Linked DNA regions of Homo sapiens: regions 2 and 3 are each linked to region 1. The links come from fine-mapping of genetic effects on gene expression. A gene starts in region 1. Each other region holds a variant in brackets. All regions are shown on one strand. Distances are from middle to middle.

Region 1 (10,360 bases):
GAAATATCAGCATCTCCCCATTTCTCTTCACCAAGATGCAGTGTTGGGCCCATTAATTGAGAACTACCTGGCAAGTATTCCAAGCAGATACACTGCAGGGGCAGCAGCCTGCAAATCGCTGCCACTTCGAGTGCGCTGCTGGAAGGAAATGAAGACCAATGTGAGGGCAGATGCAGTGTTTTCACCTTGGCACCAGGAATGGGGGCCCCATGAAGGGTTAATCCAAGAAGGAGGGGGTGTGGAGAAGTGGACTGTGCCTTCACAACTTTCCACTCTCCAGAGCCATTTGCCAACTCACTGAGCAAGCAGGGAGGCTTCTTCTTTCATTTGAAGGAAAAGGACAGAATAATGTGTTTTTCTGTTTCCCTGTAAGCCACGGGGACTGGGCTCCCTCTGGGTGTTTTTGAAACACTCTCTAACCCATTAATCACCAGGATTCCAGCTGGAGGCAACTGGAGAGAAAAAATAGCAAATCGCTCCTCCAGAGTAAAGGGTCCAAGGCCAAGTCCACTCACTTTCCAGCCAGAGCACCTGGCAGGCAACATGGTCAAGAGGTGGTACCCAGATCCCATGCCCTCCTGATTCCTTTGCCCAAAGCCAGTTGCACTCCTTCTCCTTTGTCCCCAAAGCCATCTCTTCTCAGTCCTGGGACCAAGGCAAATACCCAGCCCAAGCCTTGGTCAAGGGTCTCCTCCTGCACCCTCAACCACCTGGGGCACACACTGGACCAATGGGGTGGGCTGAAGGCCCTTCTCCTTCATGTCCCACCCTGCATCCCTGACTGTAAACTCAGTCAGAATGGAGTTCAATTTTCAATTTCATAGGGTTACTGAAAACGCTCCCCAAAAGGGAACTCATATCAAGCAATCAGGTGCATCAGAGACACTTGGAAGAAGAGCAAGGAAACCCTCATTGTGTTAAAAATTAAACTGGTGGCCTCCTGAATAAGGACATGTCTAATACTCCAGAAGCCAGAATAAAAGATAAAATTCTCTTTCCACGTCATAAGAGCCTGGAGCTAGGCCCCATGTTCTCTGTTTTACGGACATCTCCCTCCACTTTGAAACCAATGATGAAGGAATCTTCCCAAAGTGTCCTCATCCCCATCACTCTTCACCCTGGCTTTTATTTACAACACCTTCTTTTCCTGCCATCAGGAAAGGGGGACAGGAGAAAAACCAGCTGGGTCAATGTTGCTGAAACTGGTTTCCCAGTGACTCTCCAGGAGATTTCCTTAAAGTCTCAAAGACAGGGCCATGTGAGTATGCTTCTCCATCTTCTTTACACAGGCTCACAGACCTGATAATCAAGGATCTCTCTCTCGTATTGCCTACAAAATGTGGTCAGAAGAGACAGGTCCAGCCTAGGGGCTAAAGAGGCAGTTATTCCCCAGATTGGAGAGAGAGGACAGTGCGTGGCCCTACATCCACCTGTGGTGCTCTTGCATGGGCAGTAAGGCTGGCCAAGAGCACAACCAATAAGTCCCTGTGGGCTGTTCATACATTGTCCAATCTCATTGCTGTCACCAAGGTCTCCAAGCCCAACTGCTCCAGTCCCCAAGCCCCTTTGGCCGTCATTTGACTGAAGAGTCATTTCCCCAGGGAGCACGGGCCAGACCTGCCCCTCACCTCTTCTGCTGCACAACTGCTTTGAAGATGAGCAAAGAAGGCCATGCACAGTTAACTGCTATTTGCAGGAAGCATTTTCTCTAAAGTCCCATCTTCAGAGGCTTTGTAAATACTCAAAAATAATCCTTAAAATAAAAGCAGAGACACAGAAAAACTCTTCAGGGAGGGTGAATTTATATTGTCCTAATGTGGCAGTAGGGAAGCCACAGATGTAAAGACATTGCATCCTCCTCTTCCTAGGATATATTTACTTCCACACATCCTATCCATCCATCCATCCTCCTCACCAAGTAAGAACCCCAACACACACACACACACACACACACACACACACACACCCTAATTATCAAACTAAAATGAAGTTGGGATTCACAACCCCTGCTGTCAGAGAATCAACCCTGAGGTCAGAGAATCTCCCCCCAGCACACACATATCCAAGTCCTCTTGGAAGGGACTTGGAAGTCTTCAATCACCCAGCCCTGCAAAGGCACACATTGTCCACCCCTCTCGCCAGAGCTGTCAGCCCGAGGCTACGGGGGTCTTCATCCCAGGCAGATGAAGCCCGCCATCGCGCTGCTGCGAAGCTGGACTTCACTGGTCCTTCAAGACCAGCATGGGCTACCCAGGCTGGGCTGCCCGCGCTGTGCATCATTAGAAACCAAGAAATCTGCACTTTGGTATTGCTTATGTACTACCTTCTGCGGACCCCTCGCTTTCCTCTTATTAGATACCCAATCCTGGACATCCCAGGCTCTGTTAAAATAAGGCAAAAATTTCCCAGAGAAATTTTGTCAAACACCGGTCATGAAGAGAAATACAAAACGGCAGGGAGTTGCGGGGTGAGTTCCTATCAAATCAGTTCCCCAAGGCTGCTTGTACAGACACCCGTCATCCTCCGCCTGGAGCGTGCACCCTACCCAACGCCAGGTTCTGATCTGAACCATGGAGCCAGAGAAGAGGAAAGGATTTTCCAAATCTGGCTCTAGTAGGGACCGCGGGAGGGAGGGAAGTCGGGGAGATGGTGGGAACCTGTCCCCCGCCTTTTCTTTGCTTGGCTGCACAGCGCTGGGTGCCGGCGAGGTAGGGGGAGCCCCTCCGGGCACGCGCTGCGGGCCGCTGCAGCTGCCAGGCAGGCGCGATGCTCAGTCGGGCGCCCAGTTCGGAATGCCGGAGTAGGCCAGACCGGGCTCAACGACGCCACCTCTCGGTACATCCTTGTCCAGGAGAACCCGGTGGCGGGGAAAAGCGGGTGGAGAGGTGTGCAGGAAGCTCAGGCACCCAACTCCGCTCAGGGAGCCGTTTGTGGCGCAGGACGCAATGGTGAAGTCGAGAGTTTTCTGCTGAGCGACTTCCGTGTGCCTGTGCGTGCGTGAGGGCGAGCGGTGTGGCATGAGCGCTGGATGGGTGTGGAATTTCGCTTCACGCTTTAAACTTTTTTTTACGGCCTCTGCTACGGCTTTCCAGGGCCGCTCCCTGGACTTTGAAGGAGGAACCGGGGTTACCTGAAGGCCAAGGCTGGGGGCCGACTTGGCCGAGCCTCCCTCTTGGGCTGGAGGACTGCGCGCCTGGAGCGGATAGCAGCGACCCCGAGGCGAGCAGGAGGCTGGGAGTCCGAATGGCCTTCCGGGTTCCCTTTCGCGTGACGGGAGGGGGGGTGGGGGTGGGGTGGGGGTAGGGGGAGCCCGGCAGCCGCAGGAATCGGTCTGTTCAGCGGCTCCCGCCCCAAGTCAGCCCTTTTTCTCATCCAAGAATTCAAGCACCCCGCAAACAGGAAAACTGACCCTCCAAGCCAAGTATTGGAGAAAGTGAGCACAGATCCCTCCCCCACTCATCTTTAAGAAGCCCCTTCCTCCACTCCCCTCCCGGCGGCCGAAGCCTAGGGTCTCCAGTAAACAAACACACACAGCGTCTAACAACAAACTCCGTTAACCTGTTGGGGGCGTGGGGGGAATCGGACAAACCTGTTATCTCGAAAAGTCGAGGCGTCCCCCGCCTCGACCCCCGAGCAACTATCTGTCCCTCGCTCCCACCCACCCCCCCATTCCCCTTCGGTGTCAGGAAACAGGCGGACCCGCCGCCGGGTGGGTACTCACGCTGCTGTTGTGTCCCGACCAGTGCACCATGGCTTGGTTGTGGGCCGAGTCCCCGGTCAGCGCGAAGGAGGTGCTGGGCAGCCGGAGGTCTTCAGCCGCCGACCCCCCAGCCCGCGGCGCCTTCACCTCCTCCCGGGAACCCTTAGCAAGGGGACGGCTTCCTCTGGAACCATCGGCCGGAGCAGTGGCCCAGGCGTCCCCGCGTTCCTGGGTGATTGGGGGCTGCGCCCGGCGACTCCTCCTCGCGCCGCCAAGCTTGGCAGGAGCTGGGATGCCCCGGCCCCGCCGCTCGCCTGCCGGTGATGTCCCTCCGGCTTCCACCTGCATCTCACCGCCTCTGCCGCCGCCCTGCTGGGGCAGCAGCTCTGGTCCGGCCCGGCGCCCCAGCACGGCGGCTCTCCGCGCCGACGCCAGCTCCTCCGGCCACTGGCTGGCCACTGCCCGCGGCGAGAGTGGAGACAACGCCGGTGGCCGCGAAGCCGGGGCCGCCGGGCGTCCGGGACCGCCTGTCGCGTCCCAAGTGATCTCGGCGCCGGCCAGGACCCACGTCGACAAGAGTAGGAGCCCCGTCCGGACAAGCGGCGCCCCCGGCCTGCCTGCGGGGCGCTCCGTGCGCGCCGCCTCCATCCCGCTGCGGCTACCGCGGCTCGGGCTGCCGAGTGTGTGGCGCCCGCCGAGGTGCGGGTCCGGCGCGGGGGGTGTGCGCGCGCCGGCGAGCGAGCGAGCGTGTGTGTGTAGGGGGAGTGGGGAGGGGGCGGCCGGGAAGGAGGTGGCTCCGGCTGGCGCGCCTCGCCGGTCCTCTCCACTCTTCCCTCCTAGCTCCCGCTCGCCCGTTCTCTTGTCCAGAGGGTGATTCCAAACCCGAGGAAAATTAATAATTGCCCCTTCGGTGCTTTCTTTCTTAAAATCAGATTCCCCCCAATCCTCCCCACTGAGCTCCTCCAGAAATTTGGTAAAAAGGAGTAATCAAAGGTAATAAGAAAATCTTCTTAAAATATGAAAATCAAGCCGGATCCAGGAGGGGCCGGCAATAGACCCCAATCCCGAGTCTCTCCGAAATCCAGCCTCCAACGTGCTCCCGGCGAAGAGTTGGGAGCCGCTTCTGGACGCGTTTGGGGGTTTACTCTTCGGGCCTGTTATGAGGGGCGGGAGATGGCGCGCGGGGAGGGTACAGGGGTCTCGGGGGAGAAGGAGGAGGAGTTGTGTGCTCAACGCCAACTGTTCGCGTTCTAGAGCCGAGAGGGAGCCAGGTGCCTCCGCGCGGGGAGGCTGCGCACGGAAGCCAAGCGCGGGATGCACCCTGGACTCTGCTCGCCGCTCCCTGGCCCGGCCGGCTCCCGGCCAAACCCCGCCACCCAAGGCCTGCGCCCCCGCGCGGGGGCGTGGGGAATGCGTGCGTGCGCGTGCGTGCGCGCAGGCAGGCGGGCGTGAGGCGAGGGGTTCGCAGGGGGCCGGCGGGCAGACCGGGCGCTGCCGCGTGGGGGCACCTGGCTGAGCCGGGCCGGGAGCGCGGCTGGGTGTGAGGGGGCGCGCGGTTCCGTGCGTGCGCGTTTGCACGAGCATGTGTGCACGTTAGTGTGAGCGATGGCAAGTGGGGCGGGGGCGGGAGGTGTGCGCTCGGCTTTTGGTCGCGTGCGGATCACGCACGGGCTGTGTTTGCATTTCCAGGAGCCTGCGAGTGGTCAAAGAGGCAATGCTGAGAACTAGGCAGGCCGCTCTCGGCAGCCCCCTCCTCTTGGCGCCCCGAGCACCCACGGCCCCCACTACAAGCGGTTAGAACCTGATAAAGCCTCCTAGGGGATGAGGGAAAAGAGGCGGAAGGCCCCGGTGGGATCGGGGACTTGCCAGATCTTCTCGGTTGAGGGATTCTCCTTGCCCCGACCTCCCGGCCAGAGGTGGGGCGAGAGAGTAGTCGAGATGTCTGTTCTTCCAGGGAGGATCCAGACCTCATTTTGCTGCCTAGGATTTTGAGGTCGTGCCCTCACTCTCCCCAGTCCGTTTCTGAACGGACTCAATTGTTTCAAAGTGTCGGCCGCCAGTTAAGAGGGTACTCAGGCGGGAGCCGCGTGGGCTTATCTGGTCCCCAATCCGCTACTGCAGGAGTGTAGCCTGCGCGCTTGGTGCAGCTGAGATCCTTCGTGACCGTAGGAAGAAGGAGACTTCAGGTGGGCTGAAGGGAAATGAGCTAAACCCACAGACGACCTCGAGCTGCGGTTTACAGGCCCCAGGACATGTGGTGTAGCTCGCCGCCTCCGAGAAGCCCCTGGGATTCTAGGGGTTGAAAAGTCTGAGACTAGAGGAGCTAGAGGAGGAGCTATTAAGAAAGGAGGAGGCAGGAGGGAGGAGGCTTAGGGAGAGAGAGACAGCCTCCAGCCCTGCTCCTCCCCTTCGGGAGTAGATAGAGTTCCTCCTCTCTAGAAGATGGTTAAAGTGGAGCGAGAGGGAGGGGAATGCGCGGAGAGGAAAGAAAGGTGAGAGGAAGGAATGAAGGAGAAAATAGAGGGAAAAGGGGAGAGAGGAAAGACAAGATGAAGGAGAAAAGGGGCGAGAGAATGGTGCAAAAGGAAGAGGGAGATAGAAGAGGAGGCGAAAGGGCGCCAGGTAAGAGCCAAGAGGGATGGAGGAGGCAGAAGAGGCGACTGAGAATCTAAGCTGGCCAAGGAAGAAGACATCCAGCGATTCCCGAGAGCCCCCGCCCTCTTGAACTTGCCTTTCCACCCGGTGCCAAAATGGCAATTAGCAGCGGGGGAGGCTGGGCCAAAGAACCAAGCCAGCGACAACGTCCGGCCCAGAATGGTGCGGGTCCTGGCATCTGTGGGTTTCCAAAGACAGGGAGTAGCGGGTATTCCTAAGAAAAGTTCCAGCGCCGCAGGCCCAGGTGGGCGCGGGATCGGGCGCTGGACGAGAGCCGGCCATCCGCGAGTTCCCAGCGCCCCTGCCGGAGGAGGCCCGGCGCTGCAGCCCGAGCCGAAGCTCGGGGTTCGGGAGGGACGCGGTGCTGCTCTTCTCTTCAGGCTCTGGGCGGAGGTGCCACAGTATAAGAGATCTGGGCGGACCCGAGGCTCACACAGCCCGGAGGAGTGTGGTCTCCCAAGTCCTATGCGCACTGGGGAGGTGCACCATCCAGTCCCCGCAGCTTCCCGCGGCCTCTGAGCAGGAGCAGTCGGGTGCAAAAGAGGCAGACGCTCTGAGAGGGGCCTCCTTCTGTCTCTCCTGTCTGAAGAAGGCCCTACCAGATGGAACCCGGGCAGAGTTGGATCCTTGGGATGGGCTTGAGGAGATGTAGCTTAAAAGCTTTTGTTTGAAAACAAACAAAAAAGGAAAGACTCCCGCAAGTGTGACATTTTCACATGCCTCCTGCACCAGTTCGTTTTCTTGGCCTTGCTCCCATCAATTACAGTCTTCTTCCACCTGCAGCCTCTCCCTCCTTCACCCTTTGCCTGAAAATCCTTGCCCTCAGCCCTGAGCTGCCCCTGCCCCCACCCCCAGCCCCCTGCCTCCAACCCCCTGCTTCCGAGTCCCCATTAGCCTTCTCTAGTGCCCAAACTTCTCCCAGTAGTTCTCACCTGAACCCACAGTATCCTCTTCCTCACTCCTGGACTTTTTGCAATTTGACATCTGCTTTTAGGCGACTCAGTCAAAGGCCTACCCCAACACGCCTGACAGCCTCACTCAACAACCTCTTCTTCCCGCATGTGTAAACTTGTCCCATCTGAAAAGGTCTCCTTTGATCTACATGGTACTAGGATCTTCTGGGTCCTCCCTGGCCAGCCTCAGTCAAGCTTGTCCTCTTTTATCCACATCTTAAATTCTGAGCCCCAGCCTCCATCATTTTCCCCAATTCTCCGTGCTTGGCTCTCATTCTGTTTTCCCTTTCTCCTTGTCTGAATGAGCCCGGAGATCAGGCCCATTTCTGTCCTTCTACTACCATTTCCTGGTGTTGACTCCTGGATCTACAACTTCACCACATCCCCTCTTGAGCTTCACACCTGACTTCCTCATTGCTTCATACGTGTTATGTGTTCACCTTGAAACCCATATGCAGCAAAACCTAAAACCATCACCCCAACATCTTCTTAGTCACCTAGACTAGACACTTGACTTGCAAGCTTGACTCCCTCTTTTGGATCCCCACACCCATAACTTGTCTCGTCCTATTTTAAAAAGCCTTTTTTTTTTTTTTTACCACTCCTCTCCTGTTCATTCCTAGAGTCACTGCCTTATATCTGACCCTCAACATCTCTTGCCTAAGGTTTTGCAATAGTTTCCTCTCTTCTCCTGGTCTTCGGTTCTTTCCTTCTCCTAGCCAGCCTCCACACTGGCACCTTCAAATAGAAATGTAATGTAAGCCACACAGGAAATTTTAAACTTTCTAGTAGCTTTATTGAAATAAAAAGGAACCAATGAAATTAACTTTAATTTTTATTGAACTGAAGATACCAAAAATAGTTTCAATTTGTAATCAACATAAAAATTATTGATGTATTTTTACATATTTTTGTACCAAGTCTTCAAAATCCAGTGTGTATTTTATACTTACAGCACATTTCCGTTCAGACCACCCACATTTTTTCACTACCACATTTCATAACCACATGTGACTAGTGGCTACTGTTTTAAACAACACAGCTCCACACTGTTGACAGAAATAGCCTCTTAAAACATAAGGAAGATTATATCATGAATTGCCCTCCTCAAAATTTTTCAATGACCTACCATTTTTATAAAATCCAAACTTCTTAGAATGGTATCCAAAGCTCCATGTACTTGCCCCACCTCCATGAACTTTCTTACTGTATTCCTTAAGCCTGGAATGTGTCCTCTGCCACAGTATTCAACATGGAAGGGGCTTCATGGTAAGAACCCTTCTTCATGGAAGAATCCTCTTCCATGGAGCTTGCCTCCACAGCCTCATAGTACTTGTTATTATATCATTATTATTACCATCATCATGTCATCATCATCAAATTCTTTGTCTTCCTATAAGATAGGAGCTGTCCCATATCAATTTGGAATTTAAAAGAAAGGACAAAGGTTAAAGGGGGCTTCCATTTCCCTTGCTGACATAATACCTACTTCAGCTGGGAAAGGCAGGTTGAGAGTGAGGATTAGCTCTCACACAGTCCCCATAGGGTCGGCAACAAATGCCCACTGGGAATGCATTTTCTCACCAGGGCTTCTGTCCCTGTTAAAAACAACTGGAGAAAGCAAACTGTATACTGTAAGTTATCCATGAGATTACACTAAATGTCACCCAAATAAGTCTTCTTTCCGGTTTTTTGTTTTGTTTTGTTTTTTGTTTCTTGTTTTTTACCATCACAGTGAAATAACACTTTGGGAAACTGTGCTTCTTCTCCCTGACATCACAAATACACACAGACACATACACACACACACACACACACACACACACACACACACCCTTACCCTTCCAGACCCTCAATAATCTAATAGATATTTTGCCATCAGCACTCACAGCAGGCACAGATAGGGAAGCATTCAAATGATGCCGATTTCTTTTCTTTTTCTTTTTTTTTTTTTTTTTTTTTTGAGATGGAGTCTTGCTCTGTCGCCCACGCTGGAGTGCAGTGGTGCGATCTCGGCTTACTGCAACTTCTGCCTCCCAGGTTCAATTGATTCTCCTGCCTCAGACTCCTGAGGCAGCTGGGATTACAGGCACACGCCACTATGCCCAGCTAATTTTTGTTTTTTTGTTTTTTGTTTTTTTTTAGTAAAGGCGGGATTTCCCCATGTTGGCCAGGCTGGTCTCAAACTCCTGATCTCAGATAATCCGACCCCCTCGGCCTCCCAAAGTGCTGGGATTACAGGCGTGAGCCACCATGCCCAGCCCTATTTCCGTATTTTATAAAATGTTCAGCACCTCTTACATGAGGACCTAAAAGCAAATTTCTCTTAAAACGTGTATTTCTCCTGTGAAACTGACATCCTTTCTTAAAGGCTCTTTTAACTGGCTCTGTCTTCTCACTTTGTCTTCCTCTTGTCTCAATAATCACGCTGAGTACCGAGTTAACTTGTTCTAATGGTCTTCAGTCAAGATTTTTATCCTCTGCTCCCTTTTTACTAAATGCTGTTTTTATTGTTTGATACTCTTTGATCTTACTATATCTGCGTATTTTTGATAAGCCACTTCACATTCTTTTTAGAACTAAATAGGAAATTAATTAATTGATTAACATCAAACAACAGTCTACATTGTAACTCTGAATTTCTAAGGAGGCAAATGATTATGAAACAAAACCTGAAATGCAGACAAAGCCAGCCAGATGATCACTGCAATTAGGACTTCCTGTCACTGTGTGTCCATGAAGTGTCTGTTTTGCTCAATACTGTATCCTTAGCACCTGGCCCAATGCCTGGCACAGCGATGACCCTCAATAAATGTGCAATAAAAAACAAAACAGATGAATGTAAATAATAATACCTCCACTGCAGCTACTAACCACCTGTTCTTTTTAGCATGTCAACTTTCTAAAGAGGCAAAAGCTCTAGGACTTGATTGATACTACTTTCCACCACACCTTATTTCATGGTATCAATGTTCCTATTGCAAGCCACAGAAAACAATTCTCCAACACAAATTTGGAGAAAATTATCTTATGAAAAGCAGCCGGGCATGAT
Region 2 (10,360 bases), 340 kb before region 1:
CACTCCAGAAACTGCCACCAGCTGAGAAATATGCCATAAGAACCACTGGATTCATTTGAAGGTTTGGTTTCCACATGGCTGATTTTGTTGTCTTACTCTATTGTGCTCTCTGGAGCTGGGGTTCAGCGTAAAAGTGGCCCATATGCGGTTCTGTCTTAAGGCAAGGGAAAGCCCACCTATCAACCAGGAAGAGTGGGGTGTGGTGGCTGTACCTCAGCCAGGCCTAGGATAGAGAGCAGGCAGTCCCCTCACTGGCTGTGTGACCTTGAACAAGTTAGAATGCCCTTCAAGAGTCATATGCTCCTCTGTATCTTGGAAATAATATCTACCTGGCAGCTGCTTATGAAAATTCAACATAATCACATATATGAGAGAATTTGTCAGTGCCACACATGGGAAGGTGGTACTTCAGGACATGTATCTCTATTTCCAAGGAGCAGCTATACGTCCAACTCTGAGTAAAGTAACATGGGGCATGTAAGAGTTCCTAGGCTCAAAGCTCAATGCATTAGAATTGTCTACACCCCTTGGCTCCAGAATCATTTATTTCCATTACAGCTGTCAAAGCAAATAAGCAAATACTAATTCAATTTTGGGATGGAGCCGGAAAATTCATCTGAAAAACTACCAGAATAAATCACTTCCTTAACATCTACCTATGGTGGGTGCGTTCTGAATAATAAACCCTACATTTGTTGCTGAGTTGTAAATAATATAGATTGAGGTTACATCCAACAAGAGTACACTTTTTGTTAGGAGAAAAAAAAATATTCCTAGAATTTCAGAGTTCTAAAAGGACGACAGTGAAAAAAACGCTGAAGAAAAGAGAAATCTCAGGCTGCATATTTTAGTTCAGGGAAATTTTCTTCTACAACATACTCCTTCTTGAAAAGGGATTAAATAATGATTTGAAAGGGTTTTACTAAATCAGCCCCATTCACATCTAAAGCATTTTTTAAGAGCACTGCCTTATAACTAGGATAAACATAAACTAGTCATGGTATATTACTTAAAGAATTTTTAATTATGAAAGCAATGTAATGAAATAATAAAAAATTTGGAAAAGAAATGGTATGCAAAAAAAAGCCCCACAAACATAGTTCCATCATCTTAACGGACCTAGCTAGTATTTGGGAATATTTCCTTCCATTCTTTAAAATAATTTTTCTCCCTCATTCCTTTTTTCTCCCTTCCTACATTCATTCCTTCCTTCTTTCGTTCCGTCCTTCATTCCTTCCTTTCTTTACCTTACCTTATTTTTTGCATACTTGTATTTAAAAGTATGTCTTAATATATATTATGTACGCAGTTGTATATATTTATATATGTAATATGTAATGCGTACAGGCATACATCATTTCATTGTGCTTCACAGATATTGGGGTTTTTACAAATTTAAAGTTTGTGGCAACTACATCAAGCAAGTCTATCAGCACCATTTTTCCAAGAGTATGTGCCTACTTTGTGTTTCTACACCATATTTTTGGAATTCTCACAACATTGCAAACTTTTTCATTATTATTATATCTGTTATGATGATCTGTGATCAGTGTTCTTTGATGTTATCATTGTAATTGTTTTGTATAGGTGCACCACAAATTACACCTGTAGAAAATGGTTCACTTAATCCATAAATATGTGTGTCCTAATGCTCCATCTACTGACAATTCTCCTATCTCTCTCCCTGTCTTCAGGCACCCCTATTCCCTAAGACATAACAACATTCAAATCAGGCCAATTTATAGCCCTACAATGGCTTCTAAGTGTTCATGTGAAAGAGTTGCATGTTTCTCACTTTAAATCAAAAGCTAGGGATGATTAAGCTCAGTAAGGAAGGCACGTTGAAAGCCAGGAGGCTGAGAGTGAAGTCTCTTGCGCCAAACAGCCACATTGTGAATGCAAAGGAAAAGTTTTTGAAGGAAATTACAAGTCCTACTCCAGTGAACACACAAATGATAAGAAAATTAAACAGCCTTATTGCTGATATAAAGAAAGTTTTAGTGGTCTAGATACAAGATCAAATCACCCACAACATTCCATTAAGCTAAAGCCTAATCTGGAACAAAGCCCTCTCTTCAATTCTATGAAGGCTGAGAGAGGTGAAGAAGCTACAGAAGAAAAGTTTGAAGTAGCAGAAGCTGGTTCATGAGGTTGAAGGAAATAAGCCATCTCCATAACATACAAGTGAAAGGTAAAGCAGCAAGTGCTGATGGAGAAGTTGCAGCAAGTTATCCAGAAGATCTAGCTAAGATCATGGATGATGGCGGATACACAAAACAAGATTTTCAATGAGCAGCCTTCTATTGGAAGACAGTGTCATCTAGGACTTTCACAGCTAGAGAGGAGAAGTCAATGCCTGGCTTCAAAGCTTCAAAGGACGGAAGACTCACCCAGGCTAACGCTGCTGACGACTTTAAGTTGAAGTCAATGCTCACTTATGATTTGAAAAATCCTAGGGCCCTTAAAAATTATGCTAAATCTCCTCTGCCTGTGCTCTATAAATGGACCAGCAAAGCCTGCATGACAGCACATCTGTTTAAGTATAGTTTACTGAATATTTTAAGCCCACTGTTGAGACCTACTACTAAGAAAAAAAGATTCCTCCCAAACTATTACTGCTTATTAACAATGCACCTGGTCACTCAAGAGCTCTGATGGAGATTTACAAATAGATTGTTATTTTCATGACTGTTAACACAATATCCACTGTGCAGACCGTGGATCAAATAGAAATTTCAACTTTCAAGTCTTATTATTTTAAGAAATACATTTCATAAGACTATAGCTGCCATAGACAGTGATTTCTCTGATGGATCTGGGCAAAGTAAATTGAAAACCTCCTGGAAAGCATTCATCATTCTAGATGCCTTTAAGAACATTCATGGGAGGAGATCAAAATATCAACATGAACAGGAGCTTGAAAGAAGTTGATTCCAACTCTCATGGATGACTTTGAGAGGTTCAAGACTTCAGTGGGGGAAGTAACTGCAGACACAGTAGAAATAGCAAGAATAGTAGAATTATAAGTGGAGCCTGAAGAAGTGACTAAATTGCTGCAATATCATGATAAAACTTGAACAGATAAGGAGTTGCTACTTACAGATGAGCCAAGAAAGTGGTTTCTTGAGATGGAATCTACTCTTAGTAAAGATGCTGTAAACATTGTTGAAATGACAAGAAAGAATTTTAAATATTCCATAAACGTAGTTGATAAAGCAAGATTTATCAGGGTTGCAGGGCTGGAGAGGATTGACTCCAATTTTGAAAGAAGTTATACTGTGGGTAAAAAACTGTCAAACAGCATTGCATGTTACAGAAAAATCTTTCCTGAAACGAAGAGTTGTCAGTGCAGCAAACTTCACTGTTACCTCATTTTAAGAAATCACCACAGCCACCCCAGTCTTCAGCAACCACCACCCTTAGGAGTCATCTATAACAAGGTAAGATCCTCCAGCAGCAAAAAGATTATAATTTGCTTAAGGCTCAGATGATCATTAGCATTTTTTAGCAATAAGGTATTTTTAAGTTGAGATATGTACATTTTTTAGACGTAATGCAATTATACACTTAATAGACTACAGTATAGCATAAAAATAACTTTTATACGCATGGGGAAACCAAAAAGTTCACATGACTTGCTATATTGTGATATTTGCTTCATTTTAGTGGCCTGGAACTGAACCCACAATATCTCCAAGATACGCCTGTATGTATTTAATAGGTATTAATATATACCTATGTCGCTACATGGATATTATGGTCACTATTTTAATGGTTGCATAATACCCCAGTAAATGTATATACCATAATTTAAAGTCCCTTAATGTTAGGCAGTAAGTTTCTTCCTAGTTTTTCCCATTATAAATGACTTTGATAAGCATTGTTATGCCTAGAGCTTCTGAACTGAACCATTGGGTTAAAGTTATGAATATGTGTATGTTTTCTGATATATATTGCCAAGATATTTTCCAGGAAGGAAAATTCATTTGCACACCCATCAATACTATTTCAAAATATAATACCCGACACTGGGTATTATAATTATCGTACAGAAAGTGATACATTTTAAAAACTGAAACCTGTTAATTTTAAATGAAAATTTTTTCAAATTGTCCTTATGAATTTTCTTGATTAACTGGGATTACTGAATGTCAATAAATTCTTGTATTTGGTTTAGTCTAGTTCTCTAATATTAACATTTAAAGTATTTCTTCTTCTCTATTGTTTACCTCCCTTGCTACCTTCTAACATTTCTTTTGAGAAAACTTATTTTCTATCTGTTGCTTTCCTAGTTTGTCTGCATGAAATAAAAAATGACCTTGACGGAGAGTGGCTCCACTGAGGGTGGAAGGTAGTGGCTGAAAAAGCACGCAAGTAATTCTCAGATGCCAGTGGTGTTTCTTGATCAGGTTGCTGGTTTCATGAGTGTATTCAGTTAATGAAAATTCATCAGACTCATGAGATGTATGCTTTTCGGTATGTATGTTAAAATCCCATTTTTAAAATTGAAAGAATGACCCTGAGTTTAAAAGGCCAGGTGCCTTCATACCACAGTGAGTGGTCAAGATATAGGCAGAGAATGGAGGGAGCATAAGTGGCCTGGCCTGGTCGGGCAGACAAGAGCTTAAGGTCATAGGGACTTGCAAAGGAAGGGACAAGCAGAAGAATTCCTGAGTCCAACTGGAAAACGAGAAATCTAGGATCTGGATTCAAGCAAAGTAGTCAGCACTAGGGCAGTGTTATTAACAGAAAAAAACAGCACGTACATAAAGACAAGGTCAGCTCATAGAGG[C/A]AGCAGATGAAAGTACACAGGGAAACCTGAGGCTGCATTGCTCTACCTCCTGGAGCACCTGTGGCTGGAGCCACCTATCTTAACTAAAACACTGCCATGGCTGAATTTCTATCATGGGAACATAATTGCTTTGGGAAAGGTACTGTTGCCTGCCTGAGTACCCTTCTTAAAGCATATACATGCCGTATCTTCCATTTCAGCAAATGTGATTTTCCCTCTAATAAATGTATCAGGTTACTAAAATGGACACCAAGAAGGTGAAGAAGAGACCAGAAAGTCTAGGACATCATATAGAAAAAGCATGCTTGGGGCTGGGTGCGGTGCATGGTTCACACCTGTAAATTCAAATATTTTGGGAGGCCGAGGAGGGCAGATCACCTGAGGTCAAGAGCTTGAGACCAGCCTGACTAACATGGCAAAACCTCATCTCTACATAAAAATATAAAAATTAGCCGGGTCTGGTGGCAGGTGCCTGTAATCCCAGCTACTCAGGAGGCTTGAACCCAAGAATCGCTTGAATCGAGGAGATGGAGGTTGCAGTGAACCAATATTGCATCACTTTACTCCAGCATGGGTAACAGAGCAAGACTCCATTTCAAAAAATTAAAAAAGAAAAGAAAAAGCATGCTTGGGGTGACACAGGCCACCAGAGCCACATTTTGCTAAAGGTTGTTCATTCGAATGAATGTTCTTGAAAACAACACTGACATGAATGGAGATCCTTACTGCCCTTCTCTCACTGAATACAAGTTCATAGCTAACATTAAACCAGTTCTGTCATTCAGAACTCTGCTCAAATAGATCAGTGGTAACATTCAAATATCACAGGGTATCTCTGATTATGGGCCACACCCATTAGGTGGTTGCTCTACCTCCTGGTGTTTCTATGGTGATGAAGATAGCACACCTCCATTGTACTAATGAGACACCTGTAAGAGCAGTGGCCACTTGCTGTAGGTGAGCAGAGCTAGAGATATTTCTCTTAAATTATATATAAATCATTTTTATAAGAATGGAAAAGGACCTAATAAAAATGCAATGTTTTTCTTTAAGTGAAAAGTGCCCTTCAGTCCCACTCATATTCCTCAGAGGAAAAGCTTCAAAGCCATGGTCATCCCTAGTTAATCCCCAGAAGCTTTATCTCCACCAGGTGAGGAGACAGGAAGCCTGTTTCTGCCAATAGCTACTGAGAAACTTATCATCGCCTACTAATCCTGGAGGATCTCAACAAAATTACATTTTTAATCTGAGGGTTTTAAATGAGAATATAAATGAAAGTCACAGTTTCTTTGGATCCAGCATTCCAGAAGTCAAGTTTACATTTCCTTTTGAATTTTTAGGCCCTCTGAAATCCAGATACACTCCAGCACCTGCCCCAGTTACAGTCCAATTGGCAAAGCCTGCGTGGGACAAGCACCTCCTCTGTACTGGGTCCTGTGTTGCCAGCTACCACGCCTAACACTGCATCAGCTGCTTAACCAGTCTGTCAATCCGTCAGCTACTATTGATCTTGTCGGATAGGAGGTGATCAACAAAAATCCTTAGCTGCATGCCCACTCCCCAACTATTAATACTATAACAGCAACCCTTCATTATGTGTGCTAGCATTTCAGAAAGTGCTTTTTACATCAAAATTATGGGCAATTCTAGACCACTGTGGCCCAGAAGTGTCTGAAAACAATGGAGTCTGCAATCCCATTGAGCTCATCTCTGATCTCCAAACCCAGCTGTATCTGTTAAAGTTTCATTTTGCCAAGAATATAAACGGTATTAGAGAGCTTTGCAATCCTACCTCTCACGCAGAAAAAAAATAGCTATTTTCAGCTCTCCATCTCCTACGGAAGGCCCCCTGTGCCAGGATGTATGCATCTGTGAATACATGAGCATGTGCCCATTTTTTTAAAAACTGCAGTCTCTTGTCAAAATGAGGAATGTTTAAACATTCAGCTCTGTACAGCAATGAGAACAGCAGCTATATTTCTAGGATTGCACTGTCTTCAAAACCTATCTCAAAATCTTTCCAAAAGTCTCAGTTTTAATAAGATTATTGAGCCCTCCAGCTAATCTAAACACATCACAGTGTAAGCTGTTTCAGTCATCAGTGAGGAAATAGCCTGATGGAAACAAAAGAGAATCCTACCACTTAAATAACTGACAAAGACACAGCCCTCAAAAGAAGTTATAGAGCTTTTGTTCTAAGATGGAGGGAGGAGAGTAGCTTTTCTTTTGTCATTTCCAATTTGGTCAACCATAACCTATTACTTCCACTGCTTTTTTAAACTTCAGGAATTCTTATAAAATATCTACAAAGATACCCAAGAATGAATCTCTTGTCTTTACTGAGTCCTTTTAAATTAAAATGCAAGATGGCAGGAGAATCTATAGGCCAGAGAAGGAGCTGGCATGGGAGGTAGAAGGAGTGGGGAAGCTCATAAGATGGTCAGAAGAGAAGGAATTGATCAAATGCCCAAATTAAGCTGACCAGAAATCAGAAAGGACTTTAGTAGACTGGGGTGCATCAGGATTGCAGAGGTATGACCCTCCAGCAAGGTCAAATGGAAGGTACATCTGCCCCCCACCCCTTTGCAGCTTTGGAGGACTCAGAAGATCTTCCCCACACCCAGGCCTTGGCCGGTATCAGGTAGACATGTTTCCCAGTTAACTCACAACCCAACAGCCACATATCACTAGCAGAGTGTGATGTGCATCTCTCGATTTCTAGATGCAATTTTGTTTTATCCACAAGGTATTTCTTTAATTCTCCAGCAGTGCCTTTACTGAGTGAGATCTACTGGCAAGTCTTCTGTAGCTTTGGGGTAGCATTTGGGAAAGTAAAGCAATTGGATACTGTCCTTTTAAAATATCATTCAATTAGGTCTTTTGTAATACATACAACATAACGAGATAGCCTTACCAACTCTAAAGAAATTTCTAGTGCATTTCATCAAAGGCACAATAATGGAAACATCGATTCACTCCTCACCACAAACATCTCCCTTTGATGCTGCAGTTACCTTAATACTAGCACTTTTCATTTTCTCTAGAAGGAAACAGCTGCCTTCATGCATGCACATCAGAGAAGGCTCTAGTCTGAAATAACACATTTGTATATCAATCTCAACTACACTTGCATTTTCATTTGCTGCTGCACAGCATCACTCTCCTTGACTCTAAACTACTAAATTACCCCCAAAATAAAGAAAAACTCTTCTGCAACCTGGATGACTGGGGCTAGGTGTTTTATGCCATCTCTGCAAGTGTTGCCAGGGGCATCATCTGCTTTCACACATCATTTATTTAAAAGAAGAACGGCCAAGCACTGGTTAGAAACTTTATGGGCCTGAAGAACATTCAGCCACTTTACGCAAAAGATGTCAACAAGAAAGAGTACCTAAGGAATAATATATCTAGAAATGTGCAGTGTGATTAGAAAAATCCATCAACACCCACTGCCACATTTTCAAATATTTTTAGCAAGTGAAAGAGCAGCCACCAAGTCTGAAAGTATTTTGAATGCATTATATCCATAAGGGTACTTCATGAGCAATGCCCCAGATGTTCTCAGTGCTGTGGAGATGGAGGCAAAGGATACTCTTAGATACACAGGAGACATATTGCATTTGGTTTATCAACCTCTTGGTATGAGTAGTCTGTTGCCTCTAACCCAGCTTGCCTCTATAGAAATAAAAATAAGCTTTAAGAGGTCTGAGCTTCTTATAAATAAATTACCATCCAACCATTTAATGACATCTGAATAATTTACTTTTTTCAATACTGTTTCAAAATTTCTGGCTATACTAAGCCTCTAAAGTCACAGACTATCTGACATTTGGCTAAGTCTTTCATACAATATCCACTTGATGCCATGAAAGAAATATATTTGCAGTGGCTTTTCCTCTGCAAATGTCATGTGGGTGTCCTTAGGGGATGGCATTAAGCACCTGGCACCCACCATGAGGCTTGGTTAACGAGACATAGAAAGGTTATGTTGAAATTATTGTTTAAAGGTGCTGACATCACATGATCGCATGCACACACACACACACACAAACACAAATTCACAATCACATATTCAAATATACACTGAGGAGCAACTGTTTCAGTATTTAAGAGAGCAGAGTGAAGAAGCTATTTCAACCAAGGTTGTTCTGTGGATATCTCTATGTAAGACAGTGCTCAGAATTATCTGTTTCCTTTCACTGATTGATTCCACAACATTATTACATAATAGTTTGGCATCAAGCACTGTAGTACGATTCTGGAGATGTCAGGAAATACAAAGAGGAAATCATCTAAAATGTCTTTTCTTAAGTATAAGTTGATCAAATATAGAGAACTACAGAATTTAAGCATTCATCCACTAATTCATTCATCTAACGGATAGACACTGAGGACTGATTACAAGATAGAGCTTGTAATCTAGTGAGGAATGCAGATGACCCCAAAAATCAACACAAAATCTCATTTGTGACAAGTGTTCTGAATGAGGGATACATAGTGCTACGAAAAAGAACATCAAAAGGGATTTGATTTCATCAGGGAGTTTACGGAAGGTGTCCTGAGGAAGTGATGCTGGATCTGAGATCTGACGATGATGAGACTTACATTAAAGAAGAGAATTCCAGGCACAGGGAAGGGAGCAAGGGGCAGAGGTAGGGCAAGCAACTGAAAGATTCAAGGGGAAGTGATAACAGTGAACCAGGAGAGAGAAGGAGGGACCAGATCAGGCAGGGGCTGGTAATATCTACTGGGGACTGTGGTCTTTAGTTTGTGAACAAAGAGGAAATGTGAGAAGGGTTTAAGCAAAGGCACACAATCATTATATTTGGGAAATATTTTTTCAGGTTGTAGTATTAACATACTGGAAGAGACTCTAGCAATCGTTCAGATGACAAACAAAACTTATATTTGAGTAGTGGTGGTAACAGAAAGAAGAGGATGGAATCAAAAGATATTTAGAAGTGGTAACAGAAAGAAGTGGATGGAATAAAAAGGTATTAGATCCCATGATTGATCACAGATGGTGGGTTTAGAACAAGGAAATATTAAAGATACTCCCTAGGTTTCTAATTTTGCAATTAAATGGCTAGAGATAGGGAATACTGGAAGAGAGCCAGCTATGCTGGGGCGAGATCTCCAGTTCATTTCTAGAATACATTGAGTTGAGAGGTTTTGAGGCATACAAGAGACAGACAATGCTATGTATGCAGCTGAATATACGTATTTGGAGCTCAAGAAGGAGGTCTTATTGGGGTCACTAGATCTTTAATGTATTTTTAGAAAATAACAAAATGGACTTTGTTTGAAGCTTCCCTTCTATAACTCAACTAAGAGCAATGGTATATTCCAATGTCACCAAATCAAGGTGGCATAGTGTGATGGAATATGCCTCGAGGTGGAATCTGATAACATGTACTTAAGCCCTGGCTCCTAGCTTCTAGCTTGGAGGGTTTGAATAAGCCATAGCTTTTCTGTACTTTCGTTTACTATGTCACTATAAAATATTATGTATGTCCTACTTCTTTCACAGGGTTGTTTTGAATAAGGTCAAATGAGTAAAATTATAAA
Region 3 (10,360 bases), 49 kb after region 1:
CTCATGTTCAAAGGTCAGGCCAATCCAGATCAGGAACTGTGATTTGGCCTCAGCCCCCAGTTCTGTCCAAGGAGGGTACTTGAAGGTACAGCAGTAGAAGTCCAGTTCCTGGAGCCCTGGAGGTTCTTTAACCTTCAGAGCACACTGTTTATAACCAAATATCCCTAAGGGAGATAAGACCTTAATCCAGGGGTGATAAATAGGTTTCATCTAAAGTACCAACTTTGATCAATTCAGTAATGTCTTCCTGGAGCCTTGTACTGAGAAAGATTCTTAAACTGTTCCCCAGAGTGATATTCAAAAAGGTTAACAATCCACCAATCAGCACAAATGGCCAGCTGCAGTGCTGGCCAACCCTGCCCTGCCCAACCCTCACCCTCACCCCAACCCTTCTGGGATCTTCCAGGTGCCCTGCTGGTTTGGGTGTTAACTCTTTAGTTGCTGGGTCAGCATAGGGAGGTCCAAAAGGAGCCCTCCAGGCCACAGCTGTTTACCAGCTGATGCAGAAATGGTTCGATGTCTGAACCATCTGATTCTAAGCTCAATATCAGCTACAGCTGTCTCTCAATCCATAGGAAGTGCCAGCGGTGAATTAGTAGTGTCAGCCTTTGAGGGGGGAGGGGAAGAGAGTGCAGCATCATGTTGAATATGTATTTTACCTTTTAAAGAATCCATGTTTTTCTCAGTGGATCATGGGACTAGAAACTATTGTGTTGGCATTGCGAATTTTGACTGGACACAAATAGAGAGTTGAGAGGATGAACCTGAAACATATTCATTATCATTAAAACTTAGTAAAGAATCATATGTCTGAAAAAAATTTAAATTTGCGAAATCAAGCCTAAGGAAATTGAACTTAAAAACATCATTATGGAAAAAAAAACAACCTGAGTGATGACTGAATTCTACCAAAAATTTGAGGAACTAATCCTTTCAAACTCTTCCAAAAAAAACTGGTTATATGGAATAGAATTTCTCATAATGAAAATGGAAATGAAAACCAAAATGATTGAATTTTTTTTAAGAGACAGGGTCTTGTTCTGTCACCCAAGCTGGAGTGCAGTGGCACAATCATAGCTCACTGTAGCCTCCAACTTCTGGGCTCAAGCAATCCTTCTACCTCAGCCTTCTGAGTAGCTGGGACTACAGGCTAATGCCACTGTACCCAGCTAATTTTTAAAACTTTTTGTAGTCATGGGGTCTCAATATGTTTCCCAGGCTGGTCTCAAACTCCTGGCCTCAAGAGATTCTCCCATCTCAGCCTCCCAAAGTGCTGAGATTGCAGGCATGAGCCACCAGGTCCAGCTTCGGCTGGAAATTTTTAGGTGCATCAGATAAAAAATGATCAAAGAATTAAATTTACTTATTAGAATTTACCCTATAAAATCATCTTAACAAAAAAATTAATGTTTTTATTATTCTAATACAAATAATTTTATTTACAGACCTGAAATCAAAATGTACTTGGGGGTCAAAATAGCAAGGAACAAGCTTTCAAAAAGTCAAACTGGGCTAGGATTTGTCAATGTTTCCTATCATTTTGAGCAGTACCCTGGGTCCTCTCTCACAATTAGGACTTGTGTCACAGTCACAACATAAACCATGTGGCAATTGCTGGGGTGCAGGCGTAGGGCATGCCCCCTACATTCCTCCAGCAACAATATGCTGTCACATCTTCCGGGGGAACCCCAATTTAGAATCACCATTGAATTGATACACTGTTCTTGCGAGTGCATGATTTTCCCACTAGAGCAGGAAAAACTGTTTAAGAAACTGTGCTTTAAATATTGAGCCCTTCCCTTATCTCCTTGTGTGCCTCTCCCCTACCCTCTCTACCCTGAGTGATTAAACACCTGTGCCCTGTTCCCCACCTGCTCCCTCACTAGTCTGCTCCATCACTGTCTCTCATCGGACCACTCTGCAATAACATACTCACCAGGCCTCCTGTTTCCACTCACCCTCTTTACAATCATTCTTCAATCTGTAGCTGGAGAGATCCCTCAAAAACCTAAGTCAAATCATGTTGTTCCTCTTCTTAGAGCCATTCAACGGTTCCCTATTGCATGTAGAATTAAGCATAAAATATAAAATCCTTATTCTGGTTTATGAAGCGTTTCACAATCTTACCCCTGCCTACTGTACCAGATATATTTTGTACCCTCTCCTGCCTTTCTCCCCTCTTCTCCTGCGTTTCTTTCATTCCTGTAAATTCCCACTGTAGATCCTCAGCACTGGCAGTTTCCTCTACCTGAAGCATTCTTTCCCTGATCGTGCCCTGTTTGGCTTCTTCTTGACTTTCAGGTCATAGCTTCTCAGTCTTCTGAGAGATCTTTTCTGACCATTACCCCCAAACCGAAGAAACCACAGTTACTATTTCATCCTGCTTTAATTCTCTTCATAGCATTACACCACTTTTTTAATCTGTTTAATATTTGTCATATCCTTCATTACAATGTTAAGCTCTCTAAGAGTAGGGACTAATTTGATCTTGTTCACCATATGTAAGCACCCAATATATATTCATGAATAGGTAGATAATGAATGAATGAATGAATGAGCAAATGAACATAGGTAGTACCTTAAAGACTGCTGAAATTTTAGGAGCCAGTGCTGGGACTATCAAAGAGAAAAGAAGATAAGCTGACTCTTCCTTCTCTCAACCTAAGATGCTGCTCAAATTTGGCCTTTCCCTCAGGAAGCTTACGCTACCCACAGAGGCCTCACGTCACTGCTTCTATAGAAGTAATACACATTTGCAGGTAACCGTTTTCTCCACGGTGATATCACTGATGCCACCGTACTGTATTATCTTCCACATTGTTTTGCTCTGCCTCTTCATCTGGTTTCAATCTTCCCAACAAGAGTAATCTCCTTGCAGGCTTGAACTATATCTTTTGTGACCTTCAGTTCCTAATAGGCACCCAGTAAGTGTTTTATAAACCATATAAGTTCAGGCTTGGGGGTAATCTTAAAGATCACTTTCTTGCAATTCCCATTGTGGTGATAAAAGAGAGCAGAGACCTAGAGACTGAAGTGACTTTCCCAAGGTTATGTGGCCAGCTAGAAACAGGACTGGTCCTCAAACTTGGGTTTCCTGTTCCCAGGCCAGTGTTCTTTCTACTGTGTCAGTGGAGACCTTGTTAGAAATGCAGATTTCTAGGCACTCCTCTCAGATCTTCTTTAGGGACCCGGAATCAGGTACCCAAAGTAACTGTGGTGATTGTGACTCCAGGGACCCAAAGATGACACTGCTTCTGTGCAGGTTGAATCGTATGAAACACCTGACAGTTTTTGACCTCCAAAACCACAATTTCATGTTCGATGTAATAATATTCTCTTGGGTATAAAGCACTAAGTATGAAAGAGGAAGAGACCCAGGGAAGAGATGATGGCTCTCCAAAAAAAAATTAAAATCTGAACAGAAGGATAATCAATGGATGCCTAAGTGGAAATTTCATGAAGACAGAGAGAGCTTCCTTTTCTGGACCAAAGCTGCCCTGAGGTGCCAGGGAGGTTTTGGGGTGTAACCAGCCATAGCTTTGTCCTCAACCCTGAAAAGGTTATAGCAATAATAATCGTGTTTAAAGTTGGTATTTTTTGAGAGGTTGCGCTTTCCAAAGACCACTTTAGGCACAGGTATTAACTCGTCCTTAGAGCAATCCTATTATTATTGCTCTCACTTTACAGTTAAGGGAACTGAGACAGGGAGAGGCTAAGGAACTAGCCCAGGGTTAGGGTTAGGAAGTGGTGGAGACTATTTCTGCACCCACTACACTATTTTGAAGATGTTCCAGGGAAAATTGGATGACATTTGGCAAGGACTTTGGAAAGTCATCTCCTGCATGAAGTGAACAGTTGAATAAAAGACCTCCAAAGAAACTTCCAATCCTGGTGTTTTAGGAGTCTAGGATTCTGAGAAAGGGGCTCCAGTAGAGGAATGCTTCACCACAGTGTCTTTTTACCCAAGCACTCTCCTCCCTGCCTTCTTCCTACCTGCCTTTCGTTCAGGCACACAGTGTTCTTGGGTGGACTTACAGGGGTTGATCTAGAAATGAGGGGTTATGAATTCCCATTTATTCTACAGCTAATACTGTGCTAGGCACTACTGTACCCACATAAGGCATCATGTGTATATACTCCTCCTAACACCTCTGAAGTGGGTACATGCCCTCATTTTACAGACAAGGAGACTAAGACATAAGAGAGGGCCCTGGCCTTAGCTCGTCAGTGACAGAGCCAGGATCGGGAACATGGGTCTGTTTCCAGAAGCCTTTGCTCTTTCAGCAAAACCACAGAATGCCTAGGAAGGTGGCTGCAGAAAAGAGCTGTCTCTTCCCTGTTCTTCTCCAGTGGGGTCTGAGAGCCCAGTGGAGCTAAAGGCAAGGAACGGAGTTTTTAAATTCTTTGTTCAGGCTGCTGCAAAAGGCAGGTACCTTCCACACCCTCAGCCCCTATATCAGCTAAGCCCACAATCAGATGAACTTATCCCTGGATGTTTCAACATACTATGACCTATCAGAAGGCATGCGGTGGGATAAACCATGTGTCTTCTCCAACTTTAATTGATCAACAAACCTGGAAAATCACAAGAGTCTGTCCAGACAGTCCAACAACAAATAAAAGGAAGATCAAGATGTGCATTAAACATTTAAAATCGGGACCTAGCCCAGCCCTCCCGAACTGTTCTTCTCTTCAGGTGGGATTAATAGAGCATTTGCTGAGCCGTCAGCTCCCCTTGCCACTGAGTGAGAACCACTTCCCTGCAAGGCCCAGGGAGCAGGCACCTCTCCAGCATCCTAGCTCTGGTTCCTGCCACAGCAGGGACAGATGCTGTTTCCTTTACTTCCCTTATAATGATATCATTTACCTTGTGGGTTCCTTTGGCTGGTTTTTGTTTTATATGCTACAGGAGTTCTGAATTAGCCTCTCTCCTCTACCATCTGCTGATGAGAATGACGACATTTGTGAAAAGCAGCTACAGAGCCTCTTTTCCCTCTTTACTTAAAACCAATGAGAAGGAGATCTGGGACCTGGGCTCCAGACCAGACTCACTGCTTCTCCACCATGGGGCACCAGGGCCAACTAGCATCTGGGATTTTACTATTAGATAAGAAAAGATACCACAGTTCTGAGGCCAACTCCACTCACTGGCTCCAGCTCCTGAGTCCCCTCTCCGGCTGAGCTCTGTCTGATAAGGCCATGGCCACCCCATTCCCCCTTTCAAATGTCTGCAGAGCAAGGGGCCTGGCACCATAAGCTTGGCATTTTCCCAAGGACAGTGAGGGTGGCGGCCTGGATGGTATTGACAGGCCCAATATTTTAGCCATGTTTTCCAGATTGTGTTTTTCAGAATATTCATTAACAGATGTTCAGTTTAAGTGTCCCTTGATCAAATAAAATTAAACAATTCCACTCATAGTTGTTTACCCAAGGGAAATGAAAATACACAGCCACACAAGCACTTGTACACAAATACTCATAGTGGTTTTATTCTTGATCACCTAAAACTGGAAACCACTCAGACTTGGGGAGTGGATTCACAGTGACACATCCGTGCAGTGAAATACTACTTGGCAATAAAAAGGAAGAAACTATTGATAAACACAACACAGCTCAACCTCAGAAAACATCATGCT[A/G]AGGAAAGAAACCAGAGACACAAAAGACAACTTACTGGATGACTCCAATTGTTGTGAAATTCTAGAAAAGGCTCAACTCTAGTTATAGAAGACACAGATCAGTGGCTGCCAGGGGTTGCACGTTGAGGAAGAGAATTGACTATGAAGGGTCATGAGGGAGTTTTTGAGCTGATAGAAATGTCCTAGACCTCAACTGTCATGTTGGTTACCTGAGTGTGTACATCAAAACTGATTAGACTGCACCATTAAAATGAGCAAGTTTTATTGTATGTAAACCATACCTCAATAAGACTTATTTCTTAAAAATCCAACAGGTTAAAACTCACAGGACCTCCTAGAGCCTTTAATATGACATTACGCATTTTATTTATTTAATTATTCATTTATATTTATTTTGAGACAGAGTCTCACTCTATTGCCCAGGCTGGAGTGCAGTGGCATGAGATTGGCTCACTGCAACCTCCACCTCCCAGGTTCAAGCGATTCTCATGCTTCAGCCTCCCAAGTAGGTGGGACTACAGGCATCTACCACATCCAGCTAGTTTTTGTATTTTTAGTAGAGACAGGGTTTCTCCATGTTGGCCAGGATTGTCTCGAACTCCTGACTTCAAGTGATCTGCCTGCTTCAGCCTCCCAAAGTGCTGGGATTACAGGCATGAGCCACCATGCTTGGCCAACATTGTGCATTTTAAATCTTTGAGGAGGAGCTATAACATCCAAGATTTCCCAAATTCACTTGACAAAGAATTTAATAAAAGAATTTTAGAAAACACCTGTTACACTCTTGGGGAAACAAGTAAAAACATGCATTAGAGAATTGCCAATTTGGATAAAGCAATGCCCTCTTCATTGTTTCCTTTAAAATTCAAGTAGCCTTAATACAGGAGCACATTCAGCCTGACACCTTCATAGGAACTTGTTTAGGAGGCAATTTCTTGCGGATCGGAGGTCCAGGTGTTAGCAGGAGCACACTGGGTGAGGAAGAGGGTACTGGGAAGGGAAGGGGGAGCCAGAACCTGACTGGGCTCCCTGCAAGCTGTGGTTACCCATCCTGAGAGGCAGTCCATCAGATGCCAGGGAAATGAGTCAGAGATGAGTATTGTCCCTGCCCTCCAGGAGCTCAAAGCCTCACTTACTCTTGTCAGGAGCCGTTCGGTCCCAGGATTCCATTGCCCATGCTGTTGTCCATGATTTTTCTCTCTGGCTTCTCATTGCCTCTTCCTAGGAGAAAGGAATGATTCTCTGGCTCTTGGGTCCTGTACACTCCTGCAGACCTCCAGCCAAAGTGGTCACCAGCTCTAACTGGCAGGCTGTCCCCAGGCTCACTGATCACCAGAAGGGATCCAGCACTGGCCTGGGGAGTTGTGGTGGGTGGCAGCAAAGGAAGACAGTCTTCTACCTCATTTCTTCTCAAACCATATCCAAATCCAAATTCTCCCTACTGCTGGAGAGGCCTGCCCTGTGGCTCTGAGTCATGAGAAAACCAGACATAAGCGAGCATCACAGGGACAGCTGGAAGGAACATGCCAGCTTTATCAAGTGGACAAAGCCCTGTCCAGCCAGCTCTGCTCCTGCTGCCGCCTGTCTCCCTCCTCCCTCTCTCATGTCTCCCTGACATGGCCCGCTGGCCCCTGTCCAGAAACAGCTGTCTCCAGGGAGGCAGAAGGCACCTCCAAGATTGGGACCGCTAAACTGTCTAATTCCAGAAACTGAGCTCTTAATTGCTGCACTATACTCTTAAGTTCCATCCTCCCCCTCACTGAGGAAGGAGGCAGACCCAGGAGTATAAGAGACTCTCCTGACCTCTTTCTATATTCCATGCACCTTGCCATCATCCAGCCACAAAAGATCCCTAAGCTTCCGAGGCTTAGAAACAAAAGTACACAGGAGACTGGGCCAGAAGCAGTAACACTGACTGCCCTCCATCTCTAGCTCCCCTGATTTCTCAAGGGATGTGGTTAGAGAGGGCAAACAGAGCCCCAGGACATTCTCTGAAACACACCAGGTTGAAGGGAACTTTGTCCGGCTGCCCATCACTTTCTACACCTGCCTCTGGGTGAGAGATTGGGCCCACCTCCCTCTATGGGAGCCCACACAGTCACACTCACTTCCCTCGGCTCTGTGGCTGCCAGGCCTTGGACCACGACCTAGGCCCACAGTGAGATGTATCCATCCCAGACCTCACACATGAGCCGGGAACAAAAAGAATCAGGAATGGCAGAGGGTTTGGCGGCAGGAGCAGCCTCTAGTTTCCAGGGTGGCGGTGCCTCCAGGGTTAGCGAGGAGAAACTATGGTGTCCTGCGCTCAGCAGTACACAGTGATGTCCTCACCAGCCTGGTTCTGTGACATTGGCCGCAACTGACCTCCTAGTTTTCCTAGATCCTGGTAGCTTTCTGAGACTGGTTCTAGAGCCTCCTTACAATTCTTTCTCTAATATGCTTTAAATCAATTTCATTGCTACTGAGAATGCTGACTCCCATCACATGCAATACCCTTTGCCTCTAAATTAGCAGTTGTCAAAGTTTTTGGTCTCAAGACCCCTTTACACTCTTGTTTTTTTGAGACATAATCTGGCTGTGTTGCCCAAGCTGGAGTGCAGTGGCGCAATCTCACTGCAACCTCCATCTCCTGGTTTCAAGTGATCCTCCTGCCTCAGCCTCCTGAGTAGCTGGGATTACAGGCACCCACCATCACGACTGGCTAATTTTTGGTTTTTTAGTAGAGACGGTGTTTCACCATGTTGGCCAGGCTAGTTTCAAACTCCTGACCTCAGGTGATCCACCTGCCTTGGCCTCCCAAAGTGCTGGGATCACAGCCATGAGCTACTGTGCCCAGCCCCCTTTACACTCTTAAAAATTAAGAACCTCAAAGAATTTTGTGTGGATTATATCTATTGATATTTACCATATTTGAAATTAAAACCAAAGCATTTAAAAAAGACACTAATTCATTAAAAACAATAAATGTATTGTACCTTAACATAAACGTGTAACATGTTAATATAAATTAGGTGTTTTTTTAAAAAATAACTATATTTTCAAAAATTTAAAAAACTAGTGAATTGAGCGGCATTGTTTTGCTTATTTGCAAATCTCTATATTGGCTGGCTTAATAGAAGTCAATTGGAGTCATATGTCTGCTTCTCCATTCAATCTGTTTTGATTTCACACATTGTGTAGACTTTGGATAACTCCACTGTTCACTCATGACAGAGATTTTAAAAAGACAAGTGTTTTAGCTTTATGATAAAAATAACCCATGTGAGTTTCCAGAACACACTTTAAGAATCACTACTTGAAACCTTCCAAACTAATTTAAAGGACTGACAAGCCTGCTAAAGATCAGGGCTAAGCTTGTTGAGGAGTCAAATGGCCATGGCACTTTACTGCTGATGAGAAAGTGGGAATACCAGCATCAAGCAGAAGCAATCACACCCCATCCCAACCAGTTAGTTCCAGGAGGACAGCGCACCAATTCTGTTTTGTTCACTGCTCTATCCGCAGAGCCTGGAACCCCTGGTAGGCACTCAATAAGTATGTGTCGAACAAATCGTTGAAATAAATGCATCAATGTATATGTGTGTGTGTGTGTGTGTGTGTGTGTGTGTGTGTGCGCGCGCGCGCGCGCGCGCGCGCATATATAAAGATTCTATCAAAAAAAATTTAATAGAAAGATAAAAGGAAAGTACAGAGACCTTGAGTGAAAAACCACATCCTGGAACACCCAGCCTCCAGAATAGCAACCAGACAGGCGGCACCTTCACAGCCATTGCTGTACCTTGCTCATCTGTTACCCTTGCGACCCTCAGCTGCTCCCCCTTTGTTGGGTAAATGATCACAGAGTGAAGAAATGGCTTATTCTTCAAGCACCGCTCCTGTCACTTGTGACTATCAAGTGGTTGTAATCCTCAAAGCTATAGAATTTGTGAAGAGGCCAAGAAATTATCTAGTTATTTCCAATTTCTTTCTTCACCACAGAACCATTATTTCAAATGGAACCCTTACACCACCCACTGCAGGAGAAAGTGAGGTCTTGCCCCAGATGAGGCAGGAAGGGAAGACCAGAGCTGGATGGAATCCGCCTCCTCCTCATCTTCCCCCTCTCCCCACTAGGCTCAGCCCCATCCCAGGAGCCACTAGCAGCCACAGCCCACCCCAGACACATCCAGGAGGCACACATCCGTGGCAGCCCCTGCTTCCAGGTGGGCTAAGGCTCAACCTCCTTCCCATCCCCAGACTCTGTAAGATACCCGTTGTGTCCTTAAACATTTCCTATTTGTTGCTTAAGCCAATTTGAGAAGAGTTTTGTCACTTGCAGCCAAAGTGGCCTTAATCTAGTTACTGGGCTCTCCCAGGTCCCCTAAGCTCAGCACTCACCCAGATGAGCCCTGCTGGGAACCTGTGAGCTGAGGATGGAGGAAAAGACAACAATAACAACCCATGACCTCTAGCTGACCAGCATGTTCCAGCCTATAGGTCAGGGGTCTTTCACACTAGATGAAATCAAAGTTAACCCCCTTACCTTTCTTCCAGCAAATGAGAGATGGAGAGAATTTTTAAAAAGAACACTTTCATTTTTGGCAAGATCTAAATGCAATTATAGCTCAGTAGATCCACGAGAAAATTGACAAGAGCCAATCCTTTGCACAAGGTGTGCTCTGATTTCATGCCGTCAAATTATTTTTTAAAGGGCATTAATATCACAAGCTGATGACTTTTAGCCC

What was found.
Region 2: its variant is fine-mapped to the expression of SORCS3 in whole blood (TOPMed, PIP 0.97).
Region 3: its variant is fine-mapped to the expression of SORCS3 in whole blood (TOPMed, PIP above 0.99).

Annotation. Positions count from the first base shown.
Region 1 is chr10:104,635,316-104,645,675 of GRCh38, reverse strand. It overlaps SORCS3 (sortilin related VPS10 domain containing receptor 3), which reads right to left and starts at 4,386. Exons shown (of 27, transcript NM_014978.3): 1 at 3,722-4,386. The coding sequence starts at 4,348.
Region 2 is chr10:104,978,047-104,988,406 of GRCh38, reverse strand. The region is part of intron 4 of SORCS3 (sortilin related VPS10 domain containing receptor 3); the gene reads right to left. Among named protein-coding and RNA genes, the nearest start is that of SORCS3-AS1, 320 kb to the right of the region's middle. The variant C/A (reference allele first, on the strand shown) is at 4,793.
Region 3 is chr10:104,586,412-104,596,771 of GRCh38, reverse strand. It overlaps LOC105378464 (a long non-coding RNA gene), which reads right to left. Exons shown (of 8, transcript XR_007062285.1): 3 at 1,937-2,056; 4 at 660-764. Among named protein-coding and RNA genes, the nearest start is that of SORCS3, 50 kb to the left of the region's middle. The variant A/G (reference allele first, on the strand shown) is at 5,637.